Linked DNA regions of Homo sapiens. The protein of the gene in region 1 purifies or fractionates together with the protein of each later gene. This does not show direct contact. Each region holds a gene or a part of one and is shown on either strand. Other genes may lie near its edges.

Region 1 (5,118 bases):
AAATCTGTGGTCTTTCACACATATTTTACAGGTATTATTATTCTATCATTGGCAAAACCTCCACTAGAAAATCATAAGCCTGTATCAAAGTGAGGAGGATGCAGGAAGAAAGCCATAACCACGTGAGGGGACTCCCAACAAACTGCTCCAGAATTTAATTCAAGAAATTCACCAGAGAGTCAGAATTATCTGGAAACACAATACGGGATCCTAACTGGCTCATTAATCAAGTTCCTAGAAAATAACTGATTAATCCATCTGTCACCTGGGATTTATTTTCCTTGTCTATGCTTCTTTGCCACTCCTTTCATTATGTAAAACTAAGGTGAAAATTAGCTGTTCTTGCTTTTTTTTTTTTTTTTTTTTTTTTGCTAACCTCACTCCCCATTCTTGCTTTCTAATGTCAACTTTTTGGGTCACAACTGAAAACTTTTCTGGATGCATAAAGGAGGCATTTGGAAGACTGAGAGCATTTTTGTTTGTGTTCTAAGGAAAAACAAAATCCCTTCTACAGTGAAAAGTTCTTCAACTGAATGTCAACTCTGCTTCCTGTACTTCTGTTATTTATAGAACACCAACTTCATCAGGACTTTAGGCTGAACCTAGAATCCCGTCATAACTGGGAATACTTGCCAAAGCATTACTCGGGTATCTGAAATTTAAGAAAGATGAATTAATTTGGTCATCAGACCTCAGTATCTGTAAGAATGTGGATGTGTGGATGCCACCTTAAAGTTATTCATGAAGTGGATAATTAATTTTTAAATAAGCTCCCCTATAATTCTGAAGGAGGTGGTATGTAAGAACCACATATGAAAAAACTGGTTTAATCTAAGGACAATGTTAGCTATCTACTTAAGGATTATCATTGTAGAAAAAGGTTTGGTTCCACTAGTCTCTCTAAATCTTATCACCTAAAAGCATCGCTTTGCTACAGCCCATTTTATAGTGTGTTGTATCATCCCTGGCTATTTATGAAATTATACAGGTAAGCTTCAGATTAGATTTCAGAAATCTGATTTTTAATAAATATTTTCTTTCCAAGGAAAAACTGAGGAGCTTTGAGCAGATTTATATTTGGGGGTGAGAGGATAATTTTTTTCCTACAAAATAGGATAATTTTTTTCCTACAAAATAGAGAAAAGTACTTAAGTATACCACTGAACTCTTGGAAAAGATAAAAAATCAAACTAAAATGTATTTGTTTTGCTTTCCTAAGTGTCTACTCACTTTCTTCATGGCAAAAATTCTGTCTCGTGAAATGTTACTGGAATTACTATTCCACTTTACTGTTTAAAAATACCTCCCTACCCTTTACCGGAATAAGTCCCATTTACTAGACCTTTCAACTACCTGCAGGGCTGCAAACATCATCATTTCTTCTTCTGTGCATTCAATCTCTTCCAGGAGAATGGCCCATTTGGCCTGCTCGTAAAGCTGATTGATTCTGATTGCATCATACTGCAACAAGAGAAATAGTTCTTTTGTAATATATAACCTTTACCATTGAAAAATTTCAAACTCTGAATATTCAATTGACAAGAAAAATTTAATGCTTTTTTTCCTGGGATCTTAATTTACAAGCAAGAATTTTTATTTACAATCAAGTATTATTAGAAGGATACCTATGGGGTCAGACATGCCTATATATGCCCACATCTAATTTTCCATTAAAAATGACATTAAAATATGACAGAGAATAATTGATTGTACAGTATTAAAAAGTAGATTCTGTATGTTATTTTTCAGGGAAATAACCACTAGACATTATAGCCTTTAACATAAGAAATCTAATTTGATGACATTAAAGTAAGGCGGAACTACCGATTATTTTTCAGTGTTATTACTGCAACTTGCCATACAAACATGTAATCAGAAAGCAAATTATTCTGGGGAACATTTTGTTCACTGTGGAGAAGCATACCCAGATAAAGTGGCAAGTCCTTGGAAACGGCAGTTATTTTAAGTATGCAAAATACAGGGCAAATATACTTGTGGAAAATGTTTACTTATATGTTATTCAATTATCCATTTAATTATATAAATAAAAGTCAATAGTAATGCCTTAAGAATACTGCAGATTGAGTATCCCTTATCCAGAATGCTTGAGACCTTCTGTGTTGAATTTAGAATTTTTATAGATGATGGAATATTCCATTATACCAGTTGAGTGTCCCTAACATAAAAATCCAAAATGAGCATATCCTTTCAGCATCATGTCAGCCCTCAAAAGTCTTAGCTTTTGGAGCATTCTACATTTTCAAATTAGGAATGCTCAACATGTATTTTAGAACGTTGACAAAATACATCTCCATTCCCCTCACAAATGTAACTATTCCCAAAGTAGCTTTGGCTTTACTAAAAGTAGGTATGATGTGGCCTGAAAATGAATTAAAATTATTTTCTATAATTTTATTATAGAGATTTTACTGTTGTATAAAGAATTACTTAAGCATATAATAAAAGAATGTAAACATAACATTAAAATCTAGACTATACTCTAAACATGAAAAGGATGAGAGGGTAGCCAAGAGAGGTTTCTTTCCCCAGGCTGAAAGAGAAGTAAAAGATTCAAACCTCTGTGCCAAGTGTTTTCTACGGGGGAAAAAAGCTCCAGATATTTATGGTAAAGTTAAATCTTACCAGAAAAGTGAAGTACTATGGTAGCAGAGATAATACCAATCATAGTAAAGACAAGTAACAGTGTTTGTCTGTTACAGAGGAAAAAAATGTAGACCTAAGAAAAATTTGGCTGAGCATGGTGGCTCAGGCCGGTAATCCCAGCACTTTGGGAGGCTGAGGCAGGAGGATGGCTTCAGCCCAGGAGTTTTGAGACCAGCTTGGGTGAAATAGTGAGACTCTGTCTCTACAGAAAATAAGAAAGCCAGGTGTGGCTGGGTGAGCCTGTAGTCCCAGCTACTTGGGAGGCGACGTGGGAGAATGGCTTGAGTCCAGGACTTTGAGGTTACAGTGAGCCATGATCATACCACTGCATTCCAGCCTGGAGGACAGAGTGAGACCCTGTCTCAAGAAAAAAACGTTTTTTTGAAGCAACATCTTTTGGCACGTAATTAGTAATCTAAAAGTAATTGAAAAGGTAACCTTTTTGAAACTTTTATTTAAATATAGTTGAAGAGAGGTCTTATATTTTAAAAATGAACTTTGCCAATTCTTTTTTTTGTTTGTTTGAGATGGAGTCTTGCCCTGTTGCCCAGGCCGGAATGCAGTGGCATGATCTCGGCTCACTGCAAGCTCCGTCTTCCAGGTTCAAGTGATTCTCCTGCCTCAGCCTTCCAAGTAGCTGGCATTACCAGCGTGTGCCACCATGCGTGGCTAGTTTTTGTATTTTTAGTAGAGACGGGGTTTCACCATGTTGGCCAGGCTGGTCTTGAATTCCTGACCATGTGATCCGCCCACCTTGGGTTCTCAAAGTGCTGAGATTACAGGCGTTGAGCCACTGCACCCGGCCTAAACTTTGCCAGTTCTATAGTACCAAAAGAGTACCTTTAAAATACAAATCATGACACTCTAAGAGCTTAGAGATTAAAAAAAAGATAAAACCAAATCAGCCAAAAGTTTCATTATCTTAATAACAACAATAAAAAGGTTTAGTTATGCTTCCAACCTACTAAAATAGACTTATTTAAAATACAAATACCTTTGCCTAAAAGTTTGGGTTTTTAATAATTATTCAAGATTTCCTATATACAAATAATTCCTTATTCCACCGACTTCCAAAAACAAACATCCATGTGAACAAAACAAATTAATGGGGAAAAAAAAAAGATCCCTTTAAACCCTCGGTACCTTTGGATTCAAATCAAAAAAGCTGTAATACTTGAATCGGAGCAGCAAGGCCTCATTTTCCTTCACATCTTGTTCCATGAGAGATCTTGAGGAATCAAGCCATCTGGACAAATTAAGAACAGTGGAACAAAACAACACAGAATGAAGACAATATTTCTACCTCTAGCTGGATGAAGAAATTCAATTTTATCTATATCTTAAAACTTACCCTTGGTTGATTTTTGCTTTATCAAGAAGAGCTTGAGGCTTGAACATTTTTGCCAAGATTTCTGGTGACGTGATTGGTTGACTGACAGCAAGTATACCAGGATTGCCTTCTGACAAAGCACTGTCACCAAACCAAGCAGAAGTTGGTGACAAGGGGCTTCCATCATGAGCATCATAAGTGGGGGTCATTGTTTTACTATACAGTCCTGGGCTTGAATATATACTTCCTAATAAGTAACATGAAAAACAGGTAGTAAGTATGCAGTACAGCATCTTATTTTTCAATAATAACACATATTATGATATAAAGCACATTGTGAAACAAAAGTTTTATTCTGAAAGGAAAGCTTAGTATATTATTTTACCTGTTATGAAAACATGTGTAATTAATTCTCCTTGTATAACATTAAAACACGTAATAAAGCCTTAAGAATATAATTAAGTTGGCAGAAATTCTGGGGAAAAAAAATCAGTTCAAGAGAATTAGAAAATAAGGATATAGCTGAAGCAGACAGACCAACACTTTTTGTCTTTAAATTGTGGCAAGGCTCACCTTTCAGAGGGCCAATGTAAAGAACATCAGTGCCTATAGGAAAGGAAAGAAAGGAATTCAGAAGGTAAAGGAAAGGCCACAACAGAGGACAGAAACAAAAGAATGAAAAGAAAATGAGAAAAAGAAAAAACAGATTTTCCCTAATTGTGAATCATAAACTGAAGTACACATTTCAAGTGGATTTCAGAGTAAAGAACCTTAGAAGCTACAACCTAAGTAAAACGGTTTTTTTTGTTCAATTTAAAAGAATGAAGTTGTGCTGTAGTCAAGTATATAGTGACAAATATGTCTACAACTTTTACCACCATTTGAAATCCATACAATTTGAAGGTAACACAATAGAACTGAATTCATATAGATTAAGAATAATTTTATAGTAAAGTCTTCTCAGTGAATAAACAGGTTTCAACAATTTTACAAATAAAGTTTTTTTTAATTTTTAAGTTCTGGGGTACAACAAATAAAGTATTAATGTAAAAGGGGAGATAAAAGTCTGCCCTAGAAAGAGTCTAAACAGAGATATATTTAATAGTCAAATCTCAAAAGGAAGG
Region 2 (4,684 bases), on another chromosome or scaffold:
ATCCTGGCTAACATGGTAAAACCCCATCTCTACTAAAAATACAAAAAATTAGCCGGGCCTGGTGGTGTGCACCTGTACCTGTAGTCCCAGCTACTCGGGATGCTGAGGCAGAAGAATCGCCTGAACCCAGGAGGTGGAGCTTGCAGTGAGCCGAGATCGCACCACTGCACTCCAGCCTGGGTGACAGAGAGAGACTCCATCTCAAAAAGAAAAAAAAGATTGGGATAAAAACAGTATGTTTTCATTCAAAGAAAATTTCTCTTTGAGACAGGGTCTTGCTTTGTCACCCAGTGCAGTGGCATGATCATAGCTCACTGCATCCTCGACTTCCTGGGCTCAAGCCATCCTCCCACCTCAACCTCTCAGGTAGCTGAGACTGTAGGCTTGCACCACCACACTGCGCTATTTTTTCTTTTTTTTTTTTTTTAATTTTTGTAGGCCAGGTGCAGTGGCTTATACCTGTAATCCTAGCATTTTGGGAGGCCAAGGTGAGCAGATTGCCTGAGTTCAGGAGTTTGATGTGGTAAAACCCTATCTCTACAAAAATTAGCTAGGTGTGGTGGCGTGTGCCTGTAGTTCCAGCTACTCAGGAAACTGAGGCAGAAGGATCACTTGAGCCCAGGTGGTCAAGGCTTCAGTGAGCCATGACTATACCACACCAACCTGGGCAACAAAGCAAGACCCTGTCTCAAAAATAAATAAATAAATAAATAAAGCCAGGCGTGGTGGCTCACACCTATAATCCTAGAACTTTGGGAGGCCGGGGCGGGCAGATCACGATGTCAAGAGATCAAGACCATCCTGGCAAACATGGTGAAACCCCGTCTTTACTAAAAATACAGCCGGGCACGGTGGCTTAACGCCTGTAATCCCAGCACTTTGGGAGGCTGAGGAGGGTGGATCACAAGGTCAAGAGTTCAAGACCAGCTTGGCCAAGATGGTGAAATCCCGTCTCTACTAAAAATATAAAAATTAGCCAGGCGTGGCGGCAAGCACCTGTAATCCCAGCTACTCAGGAGGCTGAGGCAGGAGAATCACTTGACCTGGGAGGGGGAGGTAGCAGTGAGCAGAGATCACGCCACTGCATTTTAGCCTGGGAGACAGAGCAAGACTCTGTCTCAAAAAACAAAAAAATTACAAAAATTAGCTGGGCGTGATGGCGTGTGCCTGTAGTCCCAGCTACTCAGGATGCTGAGGCAGGAGAATAGCTTGAACCCAGGAGGCGGAGGTTGCGGTGAGCCGAGATCACGTCATTGCACTCCAACCTGGTGACAGAGCAAGACTCAGTCTCAAAAAAAATAATTAATTAATGTTTTATAGAGAGGAGGTCTTCACAGGTTGCCTAGGCTGGTCTTGAACTCCTGGGCTCAGGCAGTCCTCCCACCCTGGCCTCCCAAAGTGCTGGGATTATTGATATGAGCCTCTGTGCTTGACCCAAAACATATTTATTGAGCCCCATCCTGTGCCTGTCATGGTTCTATGCACTGGGTGTGCAGTGGCGAACAAGCCAGACACAGTCTCTGCTCTAACGGTACTTGTATTCTGATGAAGGGAGGCAGAAAGCAACAGGAAAGCATATCAGACAGTGGTATGCAGAGAGTGATGGAGGCTACTCTAGACTGGAACACGGAGGAAGGCCTCTTTGAGGAAATGATTTCTTGGTGTTTTTTGTTTTGGTTTGGTTTGGTTTGAGACAGGGTCTAGCTCTGTCACCCAGGCTGGAGTGCAGTAGTGCAATCTCAGCTCACTGCACCATCTGCCTGCTGGGCTCAAGCGATCCTCCCACCTCAGCCTTCCAAGTAGCTGGGACCACAGGCGTACTCCACCATGCCTGGTGAATTTTTATATTTTTGGTAAAGACAGGGTTTCACCATGTTGCCCAGGCTGGTCTTAAACTCCTGAGCTCAAGCAGTCCTCCTACCTCAGCCTCCCAGAGTGCTGGGATTATAGGTGTAAGCCACTACACCCGACCCTTCTTCCCAATTTTAACACTAAAAGAAAATTAGAAAAATTGGCCGGGCACGGTGGCTCACACCTGTAATCCCAGCACTTTGGGAGGCCGAGGCGGGTGGATCACAAGATCAGGAGATCGAGACCATCCTGGCTAACACGGTGAAACCCCGTCTCTACTAAAAATACAAAAAATTAGCCAAGCGTGGTGGCAGGCACCTGTAGTACCAGCTGCTCAGGAGGCTGAGGCAGGAGAATGGCGTGAACCCAGGAGGCGGAGCTTGCAGTGAGCCGAGATCGTGCCACTGCACTCCAGCCTGGGTGACAGAGCGAGACTCTGTCTCAAAAAAAAAAAAAATTAGAAAAATTACATGCTTTTCTCTTGACTGTCTGCCAACTATCATAGTAGGTAACTTTGGGAAATGGATGCATTGAGTTCTGAAATGGATGTATTTGAGAGGTAGAACACCGTGTTTAGAAAGTCCTTGTAGGCCGGGCGCAGTAGCTCACACCTGTAATCCCAGCACTTTGGGAGGCCAAGGCGGGTGGATCACCTGAGGTCAGGAGTTCAAGACCAGCCTGGCCAACATGACAAAACCCCGTCTCTACTAAAAATACAAAAATTAGCTGGGCTTGGTAGCACATGCCTGTAATCCCAGCTACTAGGGAGGCTGAGGCAGGAAAATTGCTTGAACCCAGGAGGCGGAGGTTGCAGTGAGCCGAGATCACACCATCGCACTCCAGCCTGGGCAACAGAGCAGACTCCGTCTCAAAAAAAAAAAAGAAAGTCAGAAAGTCCCTGTAGATTTCTAAGCGTCTGTGTTTGTTTGTTAGATGCTTGTTGACGCTCCCTGCTCAGACCTGGCTCAGGAACTACGTCAGAGTTGTGCCACCGTCCAGCGGCTGCAGCACACACTCCAACAGGTGCTTGACCAAAGAGAGGAAGTGCGTCAGTCCAAGCAGCTCCTGCAGCTGTACCTCCAGGCTTTGGAGAAAGAGGGCAGCCTCTTGTCAAAGCAGGAAGGTAGGACTCTCTGCAGGCAGAGTCACTCTGAGAATTCAGGGCTGATGGAGGCGTCCCTTGGGAGGACACTATTTGTGATGTAGCCAGGGCCACTGAAGCCGCGGCTGCTGGGATGCGGGACGGGCACGTTTCTCTCTTGCCCGGCCAGTTATTCTGGCGAGTTGTTCATGTGGCTGTGTGGTCACACCACGTCTGATCTCTGTCTCGTGTCTCCTTTGCAGAGTCCAAAGCTGCCTTTGGTGAGGAGGTGGATGCAGTAGACACGGGTATCAGCAGAGAGACCTCCTCGGACGTTGCGCTGGCGAGCCACATCCTTACTGCACTGAGGGAGAAGCAGGCTCCAGAGCTGAGCTTATCTAGTCAGGATTTGGAGGTGGGCGGAAACCAGGGTCACTGAGCTACAGAGGAGGACATGCCCTGGGATGTAGTAGTATCATGCAGAGGTGTGTGGGCCCTTTTGTTCACCTCTGCAGACTGTGAATCCTAGCTGCCAGTTTGCCTATTATATGCCAAGGCATTTGCAAAAATCTCATTAATCTAAATCAAAATAGCTTTAAAGAAAAATGCATACACTTCCTCAGATCATCAAACAGACTCTGGTCCAAGGTTGGTAATGAAATGACTGTTCCTGACAGGGAGGAATAGCAGGGCCCAATCTTCTGAGATGGCTTCTGGGTCTTTCCATGGTCAGAGAAGATCTATAGTCCGTCCTGAGGTCTGTCAATGTCACAGGAAAAGGCAAACTTGAGGGGATCGTCGCCTGCTGGCTAAGACCAGGGAGCTAAAAACTTGAGGAAGGGAACCTGCCTGGGTGGGTGCTACTTCTGATTCATTGTCCTTGTCCCTGTCATAAGTACCTCCCTATTGTAGATAGAAGGGAAGGAAACTGTTGACTTGAGCTTGGCTAAATTTCCTGAAGGTGGAGGACCTTAGAGTTGCTCCAAGTAAACTTTCCAAGGACTTCTTCCTGTTGGTGTTGTAAGAAAAGGCCCATGCTTGTCCGGGCACAGTGGCTTACGCCTGTTAATGCCAGTACTTTGGGAGGCCGAGGCAGGTGGATCACCTGAGGTCAGGAGTTCGAGACCAGCCTGACCAACATGGCGAAACCCCATCTCTACTAAAAATACAAAAATTAGCCTGGCATGGTGGTGGGAGGCTGAAGCAAGAGAATCACTTGAACCCAGGAGGTGGAGGTTGCGTGAGCTAAGATCGCGCCACTGCACTCCAGCCTGGGCGACAAGAGTGAAACTCCGTCTTAAAAAAGCCCATGGCAGGCTGGGCGCGGTGGCTCACGCCTGTAATCCCAGCACTTTGGGAGGCCAAGGTGGGCGGATCACAAGGTCAGGAGATCGAGACCATCCTGGCGAACACGGTGAAACCCCGTCTCTACTAAAAAAAATACAAAAAAATTAGCCAGGCGTGGTCGTGGGCACCTGTAGTCCCAGCTACTCAGGGGGCTGAGGCAGGAGAATGGCGTGAATCCGGGAGGCGGAGCTTGCAGGGAGCCGAGATAGTGTCACTGCACTCCAGCCTGGGTGACAGAGCGAGACTCCGTCTCAAAAAACAAAAAGCCCGTGGCAATTAATGGTAAAGGAAACCCGGCATTTCAGTGTAAAGAGGTAACATAAACGGATACTGCCTCATTGCACTCCCCAAAAGAGAGTCAGGAGAGCAGCAGGAGAGGCGCACAGAAGGCCCAGTTCTCAGGGG
Region 3 (4,595 bases), on another chromosome or scaffold:
GGGACACAGCCCCCGGCCCATTGGTCTGCTACATCCCTATGGGCTTGGTCGAGGGCTGCCCCTCGGTTCAATGGCAACAGCTCCCTTATGCTGTGGGTGAACGGAGGTGTCAGCAGACAGAGGAGGAGGGCTAGGGCGCGGTGGGAGGGAGAAACTCGCCACCTCCCCTTTAGAGTGGAGTTTATTTGGGAATGACAGTAGGAGGATAAATTTTGAAAGAAAAATAAAGTGGAGTTTAGGATGAGAACCATCAGTACACTCCAGAGTCCAAAATGTTACCTAATCCTTCGTAGTGTTTATCATAATAAACTTACTTAAAATCTACTTTTACAACGTGGCTGAGAACATTGCTCTTGCTGACTGATCACCTCCGGGCCAAGAGCCCTGCGTGCGCTCAGGCATCTCAGGTCCTCCCCGGTCATCACCTCTGCGCTTGTGTCCACTGCACAAAAGTGAAGCCTCAGCCGCTCCAGGCTGGTTTCCTTTCTGATTTCCCATTCCGAGTGACTGCTTCAGAAGTGCATCACCCTATGACACAGCTTGTGCCTCTGGGAGCCCTCCCCCAGGAGACACTGACCCCTGGCCAGCCCCACGCAAGCCCGGTTAGCTGATGGAGGTGGAGGCAGGTGATCTGAGAGGGACCCTGGCTCTGATCTTGGGCTCTCGCAGGGGACAACGGACCAGGCTCAGCACAGAAAGGCCTCGGAGAACTAACAACACTGACTAGGTTGCTCCCGCCTTCAACATGCAAGTTGACAGGGTGATTGGGAAAACTAGGAGCCTAAACTAGACGGCCAGGCACCGAGGTGGGTAGGACATCTGAGCAGGCATGCTGTGTGTGCCGCCACCCACCCTGACGAGGACCCGCAGCCCTCCTTGCGGCGGCCCATCTGCAATGGCCTCCTCTGCAGCAGGCCTGGGACAGAGCAGTGTCTGGGCGATCCCTGTTGGCTCCAGCTGCCCCTTGCCAGTCCCGTCAGACAGCCCCGGCCCAGGCCTGGGCACAGGTATCCCCTGGCTGTGTCCACACTCCCCACACCTGCTCGGCCACTGCCCCATGCAAAACCGGACCTACACCTGACAGAGAGCAAGAAGGTGAGACCAGACTGTGCCCAGCAAGTTGTAGCCAGCCCACGCCTGGCCGGGAAACGCCCAGGCCTCTGCCCAGCACTGGAAGGGTGATGTCTTTGGAAGCCTTCGAAATGTGACTTCTGGAAAGGCCTGCAAAATGCCACTCCTGGCATGTGATGACCTGCCAGGCCCAAAGGGACCCACTGGGAAACACTGAAAGCCACGAGAAGGCTGGACAGAACTTTAAAAACTCTGTGTCATTTTTATGTGCTGAAAACAGGCGGCTTGTGCACACCCATGTTCACAGCAGCATGATCCACAACAGCCAAAAGACGGAAGCAACCTAAGTGTCCACTGACAGATAATGGACACACATACAACTCAGCCTTCAACAGGAAGGAAATGCTGGCACATGCTACACAAATGCTAACTCTAACAAATGCTGCAACATGGATGCACCCTGAAAACATTGTGCTAAGAGAAATGAGCCAGTCACAAAAGGACAAACACTGCATGATTCTACTTACATGAAGTCCCTCGAGGAGTCAGATCCATAGAGACACACAGTGAAGGGTGAGTGCCCGGGCAGCAGGGAGTGAGTGTTTAATGGGGACAGAGCTCAGTTTGGAGATAATGGAAAAGTTCTAGAGATGGATGGTCATGCTGCTTGTACAATATGAACGTACTTAACACCACTGAACTATATACTTTAAAATGCTTAAGATGATGAATTTGATGTTATGTGTATGTCACCATAATTTTTAAAACTTTCAAATCCATATCATTTTTATGTTAAAAACAACAAACTAGCTTGGCTGGGCACAGTAGCTCAAACCTGTAATCCCAGCACTTAGAAGGCTGAGATGGGAAGATTGATTGAGCCTGGGAGGTGGAGGCTGCAGTGAGCTATGATCACACCACCACACTCCTCCTAGGCAACAGAGAGAGACCCTGTTTCACACGCAAAAAAAGAAAAAAACCTAGCTGGAAAGCCTGAAGCAGCAAAACATTTAATATGCTAAAGAAAAAATACATACTGGCCAGGTGCGGTGGCTCACACCTGTAATCTCAGTACTTTGGGAGGCCAAGGCAGGTGGATCACAAGGTCAGGAGATTGAGACCATCCTGGCCTACATGGTGAAACCCCGTCTCTACTAAAAATACAAAAATTAGTCAGGTGTAGTGGTGGGCGCCTGTAGCCCCAGCTACCCAGGAGGCTGAGGCAGGAGAATCGCTTGAACCCGGGAGGCGGAGGTTGCCACTGCACTCCAGCCTGGGCGACAGAGCGAGACTCCATCTCAAAAAAAAAAAAAAAAAGAAAAGAAACATACCAAGACTTAAACCTGGAAGGTGACAAGTAGGATTTATGTGCTGAAACCTTAATAAGCAATTGCTCAAGGGCCAGGGAAGGCGAGGATGATTGCCTAGTTGATCCTCGATGAGGACACCTGGCTGATGCCGTCTCAGTCTCTTCTCTGGTTTTTTCCAGCATGTCCCACGGTGGTGGGGAGACACGCAGAGATGCAAGGTGCTGGGGATGGCAAGATGGGCACAGCCTAGTGTGAGTGCCGCCCCACAGGCCTTCACGGTTGCTCTCGAGGTGCACTGGGGAGCGGCCAACCCGCCTGGCAGCCAGCAGGATGGGGGAGCCCTGGGAGGTGACAGGAAGTGGGGCAAAGATTCTCCATGCACCTCGGGGAGACCAGAGACAGAGCGTGTGGCTCGACGTGCCCTTACCTATGGCCCACAGGACGGTGTCAAAGGTGCCCGTGTCCTCCTTGCCGGTGGTGCTGTCCTCCCAGGTGACCTGCAGCTGGCCATCAGGGAGCCTCCTGACCCGCGAGGGGGCACAGCCCCTCAGGAACCGGGTGCCATGAGATGCCATGTGCTCTATGACCATGGAGGACATTTGCTGCAAAGCACAAGAAGACAGGCCATGAAGACCAGGTGGCCGTGGGAGAGAGGCTCTGGCCCTGCCCTGCTCTCGAAGGCCTCAATGAAGGGCGGAGAGGGGTCTGTGCGGAAGACGGGGTGAGACACCCTGCCCCCTGCTCTACGTCCTCTTGCTCTCTGTGGAGTGTCTAGCCCCTGTCCTGGCTCCAAGTCCTCAACCCTGGGCCCTATGGTCAGGATTCACTCAGCCTGTGGGCTCCTCTCTAGATGCTAATTAACTAAGTCTTCATCAGCCAGATACGGTCACACCTGTAATCCCAACCTTTTGGGAGGCTGAAGTGGGAGAATCCCTCAAGCCCAGGAGTTTGAGGCTGCAATGAACTGTGATCACACCACTGCACTCCAGCCTGGGCGACAGAGTGAGACTCTATCTCTAAAAGAAAAAATAAGCAAGGCCGGGTGCGATGGCTCACACCTGTGATCCCAGCACTTTGAGAAGCTGAGGCGGGCGGATCACGAGGTCAGGAGATAGAGATCATCCTGGCTAACACGGTGAAACACTGTCTCTACTAAAAAACACAAAAAATTAGCCAGGCGTGGTGGCAGGTACCTGTAGTTCCAGCTAACTGGGAGGCTGAGGCAGGAGAATGGCGTGAACCCGGGAGGTGGAGCTTGCAGTGAGCCGAGATTGTGCCACTGCACTCCAGCCTGGGTGACAGAGTGAGACTCTGTCTCAAACCAAAAAAAAAGAAAGAAAAAAAAGAAAAACAACCAAATCCTGGTACATCTACACATTTCTTTAAAAAACAAAAACAAAAAACTTAGTCTTCACTAAAACCAATGGCAGAGAAGCGTGCCTTCCCCCAGGAGCTGTGCCCTGGTCCAACAAGATGGCCCCTGCTCCTGGCCCACCCCTCCACATGTGGCCAACATGCCCCTCTGCCATCCAGGAGCCAGGAGGGTAGGTAGGAGACTCTGCTCCCGCCTAGAAATGTAGGCACAGCAGGCTCAGGTCCAGATCAGGGACAGAGAGAGTCCTGCTTCTCCCTCCCGGCCCAGGAGGCCTGTGCGCCCCAAGTCCAGCTACAGATGGGGGCCCTGTTCCCAGGACAATGGGGACTTGCACGGACCAGCAGTGAAGCTGGCCACAGCTTCTGGTTTCAAGAGGAGAAAAACAGTCACTGCTAACATCCTCTGACACCTGTGCGGGTGTGCCAGCTGGCTCTAGATGGCGTGTGTGGGAGTCTGGCCCGCCGGGCAGGGCTGGCTGTGCTGCAGAGGGGCTGCCGCACAGGCTGTTCATCACTCCTGCACCCCTCCAGAGGCCTGGAGGGCATGGCCATCCCAGGCTCTGAGGGAGAACCATGGAGCCTGTCCAGGACACAGGGTCCCTCGCCCCTCAGCCTGGCTGCCTAGACTGTGCATCCTCCTTGCCTGGGCACGGCCCCCATTCTGCAGGCCCCTTTCCTCCTCCGTCCACTGCCAGCTCACCCTCCCCACATCTGAAGGCTCTGAGGCCTTCCTAGACACTGCGTCCCTACCACAGGGCTCGGTGGGTTTGCACTGAGGGACATGATGGGAGTGTGCCATAGCTTTAGGATGGAACAACACATGGCCACACGGGTGGAGGG
Region 4 (4,684 bases), on another chromosome or scaffold:
AGGCAATAAATGTCAGGTATTATTTTTTATTATAACTACTACTGACAGCATAGAAAGTCTATGGGTTCATTAAGGATCTCAGAGTTTCCTGACATTGTATGGAAAATTCTATAAGATTGTGCATTTTTCTGGAAAGAGAGGTAGTAGCTTTTGTCAGATTTTGCAAAGAGCCTGTGTCTTAGTCTGGTCTGCTACAACGCAATCCCTCATGAGTTGCTTAAACAACAGAAATTCATTTCTCACAGTTCTGGAGGCTGAAAGTCCCAGATGAAGGTGCTAGCAGGGTCAGGTTCTTGGTGAGGACCTTCTTTCTGCCTTGCAGACAGCTGTCTTCTGGCTGTGTCCTCACTTGGTGGAGATAGAGAAAGCAAGCTCTCTCGGGTCTCCTTTTATAAGGGTACAAATCTTATCATGAGGGCTCCACCCTCATGACCTGTTTGCCTCCCAGAGGCCCATCTCCAAATACCATCCTATTAGAGATGAGGGTTTCAAAGTATGAATTTTGGGAGGACACAGACATTCAGTCCATTGCGAGCTGTGACCCAGAAATGTTTAAGAAATGTAGACTTACACATCAACATCTATGTAAAGGGAGAAGTTTTTAGGTTTTGGCAGTCTTTCTTCCATGCTTTTAAACAATTTTTGAGTCAAGCATTCTGTTTTACCCATTGTAGAAGCAATGAGAAAACACAGCTAAACAAAAAGAGACTAAAAGTTACCGGTAATCTTCCCACCCAGAGATGGTGAATTTGTAACGTTCTAAAATTTGTGATCACATTAGCCCAGAGATAACCACTTGAACATTTAAAAATATATCCTGTCAAAACACTTTCTGCACATAAATATGCCAATAAGTATCCAGAGATCTTCCCTCCCTGCCACTGTCTCTGTATTGCTTTCTCTTCTTCTCTCCCTCCCATTTTCCCTCTGTTCCTTTCTACTTTACATTCCAGTAAAATTCAAATGAATACAAAAGTAGAGGCAGTAGTATGGTATTTCCCATGTGTGTATTATTCAGGATCAGTGATTGTTAACACTTTGGCCAATCCTAATCCTCCCCGCCAACCCCCCAACCCCAACACACCCTTTTTACCTTGCAATTTATTTTTTAAAGAAATCAGGGTGTTTGTCCTATAGCATTTCCCACATTCTGGAAACATTCTTGTGGTGTACTTTAACATGTATGGTAAAATGGCAGTATGTTTCTACCACCCTACTCTTTGTTTTTATTTTTATTTTATTTTTTTAATTTTTTTTGAAACAGAATCTCGCTCTGCTGCCTAGGCTGGAGTACAGTGGCTTGATCTCAGCTCGCTCCAACCTCTGCCTCCCGGGTTCAAGTGATTCTCCTGCCTAAGCAGGAGCTGGGATTACAGGCGCCCACCACCACGCCTGGCTAACTCTTGTATTTTTAGTAGAGATGGGATTTCACCATGTTGGCCAGGCTGGTTTCGAACTCCTGACCTCAAGTAATCTGCCTGCTTTGGGCTCCCAAAGTGCTGGGATTACAGGCGTGAGCCACTGCACCTGGCCCCTACTTTTTGTTTTTATTTAATTAATCTATTTTATATTCATTTTTCTCTCTTCTTTTGGATCAATGAAATATTTTTCATTTTTTTGGCATCTAATGTATTACATTTCCAAATTCATTTAGAGGTTGCTCTAGAGATTACAACATGCATCCTTGACTTATTTCATTTTGTTTCCACTTTTCCAACAGTTAGAGCCTTTAATATACTTTATCGCCCTCTGTCTTTTGTGTTACCATTTTGTGATGAACTCATGAATTTTAACATATTTCATGTGTTTTAATCCATTATAGTTTTTTATTCCTTTTGATATTCAGTTTATTTTCAGAATAACTTTGTATACGTTTAAACATCAAAATTAGGGCTATATTGTAAATATGACAATTGACAGATTTTCAGTCTTTTTCATTTAATAAGGGTGTACTCCTTCTCACCATCCTTACCTCACCTCTTAAATCTATTCTGTTGCCACTCCCTGTCTGCTCTATCTCCCTTAAGATACTTTTCTTCCTCCCTGCTACTCCCATCCTGGCTCAGGCACCCATCAACTCTTGGCTGGCAGTCTCAACTAAACTACTGTAGTAACTCCTACTGGATTCTCTGTTTTTTCCTCTGGCCTTCCTCCATGTTACTCTCCTACCTAAAGTACAGTAGTGGCCTGCAGTCTCACTGAAAATACCACTGCCTACAAATTCTTATGTAAGCTGGCTCTGTCTGTCTCTGCAGGGTCATCTTTGCCATTCTGTTTCTTACTCTAGCTTCAGTGTAGCTTCTCAAGCCTTTCAAATCCCTTCCTGCTTCAGGTCCTTTGCACATGCCACTTTCTGTCTGGAATGCACACCACCTGCCCCTGTTGCTTGACTAAATCCTCTTCAGGTTTCAACTTGTGTTAAAACCCGAGAGAGGCCTTCTCTGAACTTCCAACTTAATGAAGTCACCTTGTATCATCTTACAATAGTCTAATTTTCTGTGATAGCACTTTGTTGTATTTATATATTTATCTATATGTATTTCGTATGCAGCATCTATCTTTCTTACTAAACTGTAAGATTGATGAGGACAGGGATAGTGTCGGTCTTGCTTCTCTCTCTGGTGCCCAAGGAGTATTTGACATATAATAATTAATAAATAGTTGAGTGAATAAATAAATGAAAATGTTTGTCATGTTTCTTGAAGAAGAAAACTATATGCTATGGGAAAAGATTTTGATTTATTTCATGAGGTAGAATTGAGGAATGATTTATAGTAAAGCCTGGTCTAGACTGGTAAGTCTTGAAATTATTTTTTAAATTAGGAAATATATCATTTTTTTAAAGAAGTATATGTGTGTGTGTATAACGTATGTTTATATATAGGCCACATATACATTTTAAAGAATAGTTTAAAAAATCCATATGCCCAACACCTATAAAAAAATGGAACATTAACAATAACTTTGAAACCCACTGTGTACTTCTTTGCAATTTAATTTTCCTCTCAGTCTCATCCTTTGCCCAGGAGGTGATCACTGTCTTCCATTTTGTGTGTCAATACTATCTTTTCTTTGTAGTTGTACATACATACGCATGTGTATTTCTAGACATTTACTTAGTTCTGCATGTTTATGGCTTTTATATAGATGAAATCACATACATGTATTCTTCTAAACTTGCTATTATCATTAAAGGTTATATTAATATTTTTGAGAATTGGCCATTTCTTGTAGCATGGTTCATTCATTGTTATCATTTTGTAGTATACCATTGTAGGAATATACTGCAGTTTGTTTTTCTGTTCTTCTATGGTGTGTCTAGTTTTTGGCTTGTAGACAGTGCTGCTACAAACTATCTCCTGGTCCCCATGGGCAAAATTCTCTCTGGGGTATCCTTTTGGGAGCAGAATTGCTGGCCATAGGGCATGTGCATCTTCAGATTTCCTAGGTAGTGCCAAATTGTTTCTAAAGTGGTGGTAAGTTAGTTACATTAGTAGAGGTTTTTTTTTTTTTATGTGTGTGAGACAGACTCTTGCTCTGTTACCCAGGCTGGAGTGTAGTAACACGATCTTGGCTCACTGCAACCTCTGCGTCCCAGGTTCAAGCAATTCTCCTGTCTCAGCCTCTGGAGTAGCCTGGATTACAGGTGTGCACCACCACGCCCGGCTAATTTTTGTATTTTTAGTAGAGATGAGGTTTTACCAAGTTGGTCAGGCTGGTCTTGAACACCTGACCTCAGGTGATCTGCCCACCTCAGCCTCACAAAGTGCTGGGATTACATACGTGAGCCACAGTGTGCAGTAACATTAATAGAGTTTCTAATGTTGACCCCACTTTGTATTTTTGTAATAAACTGAATTGGGGCTTTATCTTTTATATACATTGTTGGATTGTGAGATCTACGATTTTTAGGATTTTTTTGCCACTATATTTATTGCTGAGATTGGCTTGAACTTTTCCTCTCTCTACTGTACTTGTCTGGTTTTGCTATCAACATTCTGTAAAATTAGTTCTCTCTTTTCTTTGGAAGAGCTTCTATAAGTTTTTATCTATCTGTTCTTTGAATGTTTGATAGAACTGGTGACCTATTTTTGCATATCTGAAATATATAGTTCAGTTTGGCTTGTTTTTGATATTTTGATACATATAAATATGTATCCTTTGTGTTTTGCCTTTTGCTCAGTATCCCTTGTGAGATTCATTTGTGTTGTTGCATGATGCTTTAGTTTATTCGTTTTTATTGCTGTATGGTATTCTGTTGCATGAATGTGCCACAGTTTACTAATTCATTTTACTGTTGTTGGATATTTGGCTATTGCCAGTTTGGGGCAATATGAACAATGCAGCTATGAGCATTTTAATACATTTACTCTAGTGCACCTGAACCCATTTTCTCTAGGATGTGCACATCAGGTAAATCTGTTAGGTCATATGGTATGCTTTTCATTAACATCATTAGAAAGTGTCAAATTCCCAAAATGGTTATACCACTTTACACACTGAGTATATGAGCGAGTGCTTTCATTTCTCTACATCATCTGTCCCTGCTATTCTCATGTCTTCACTTTTGCTAATCTAGTGGCTTTGTACAGTATTCTTTTATTCAGTAAATATGTGGGGTTTTTTTCCCACATTTGCTATGTAAAAGCCTGAAGCACTGAGCGTACAGTGAGAGCCCTGCCTT

What was found.
Region 2: the proteins of FERMT2 (region 1) and DFFA fractionate together in Homo sapiens (co-fractionation; one large-scale study listed by BioGRID). This does not show direct contact.
Region 3: the proteins of FERMT2 (region 1) and TXNRD2 fractionate together in Homo sapiens (co-fractionation; one large-scale study listed by BioGRID). This does not show direct contact.
Region 4: the proteins of FERMT2 (region 1) and USP46 purify together in Homo sapiens (co-immunoprecipitation; one large-scale study listed by IntAct). This does not show direct contact.

What each region holds. Positions count from the first base shown.
Region 1 is NC_000014.9:52,877,229-52,882,346, forward strand, and holds part of FERMT2 (fermitin family homolog 2), read right to left. Parts: intron 4,601-5,118; coding exon of another isoform or gene 4,568-4,600; intron 4,242-4,567; coding exon 4,016-4,241; intron 3,911-4,015; coding exon 3,808-3,910; intron 1,462-3,807; coding exon 1,354-1,461; intron 1-1,353. UniProt on the Homo sapiens protein: Scaffolding protein that enhances integrin activation mediated by TLN1 and/or TLN2, but activates integrins only weakly by itself. Binds to membranes enriched in phosphoinositides.
Region 2 is NC_000001.11:10,461,721-10,466,404, reverse strand, and holds part of DFFA (DNA fragmentation factor subunit alpha), read left to right. Parts: intron 1-2,784; coding exon 2,785-2,974; intron 2,975-3,195; coding exon 3,196-3,347; coding exon of another isoform or gene 3,348-3,371; exon of another isoform or gene 3,372-4,684. UniProt on the Homo sapiens protein: Inhibitor of the caspase-activated DNase (DFF40).
Region 3 is NC_000022.11:19,892,599-19,897,193, forward strand, and holds the end of TXNRD2 (thioredoxin reductase 2, mitochondrial isoform 5 precursor), read right to left. Parts: intron 2,984-4,595; coding exon 2,809-2,983; intron 2,603-2,808; coding exon 2,535-2,602; 3' UTR 1,310-2,534; downstream 1-1,309. UniProt on the Homo sapiens protein: Involved in the control of reactive oxygen species levels and the regulation of mitochondrial redox homeostasis. Maintains thioredoxin in a reduced state. May play a role in redox-regulated cell signaling.
Region 4 is NC_000004.12:52,620,493-52,625,176, reverse strand, and holds part of USP46 (ubiquitin carboxyl-terminal hydrolase 46), read left to right. Parts: intron 1-4,684. UniProt on the Homo sapiens protein: Deubiquitinating enzyme that plays a role in behavior, possibly by regulating GABA action. May act by mediating the deubiquitination of GAD1/GAD67.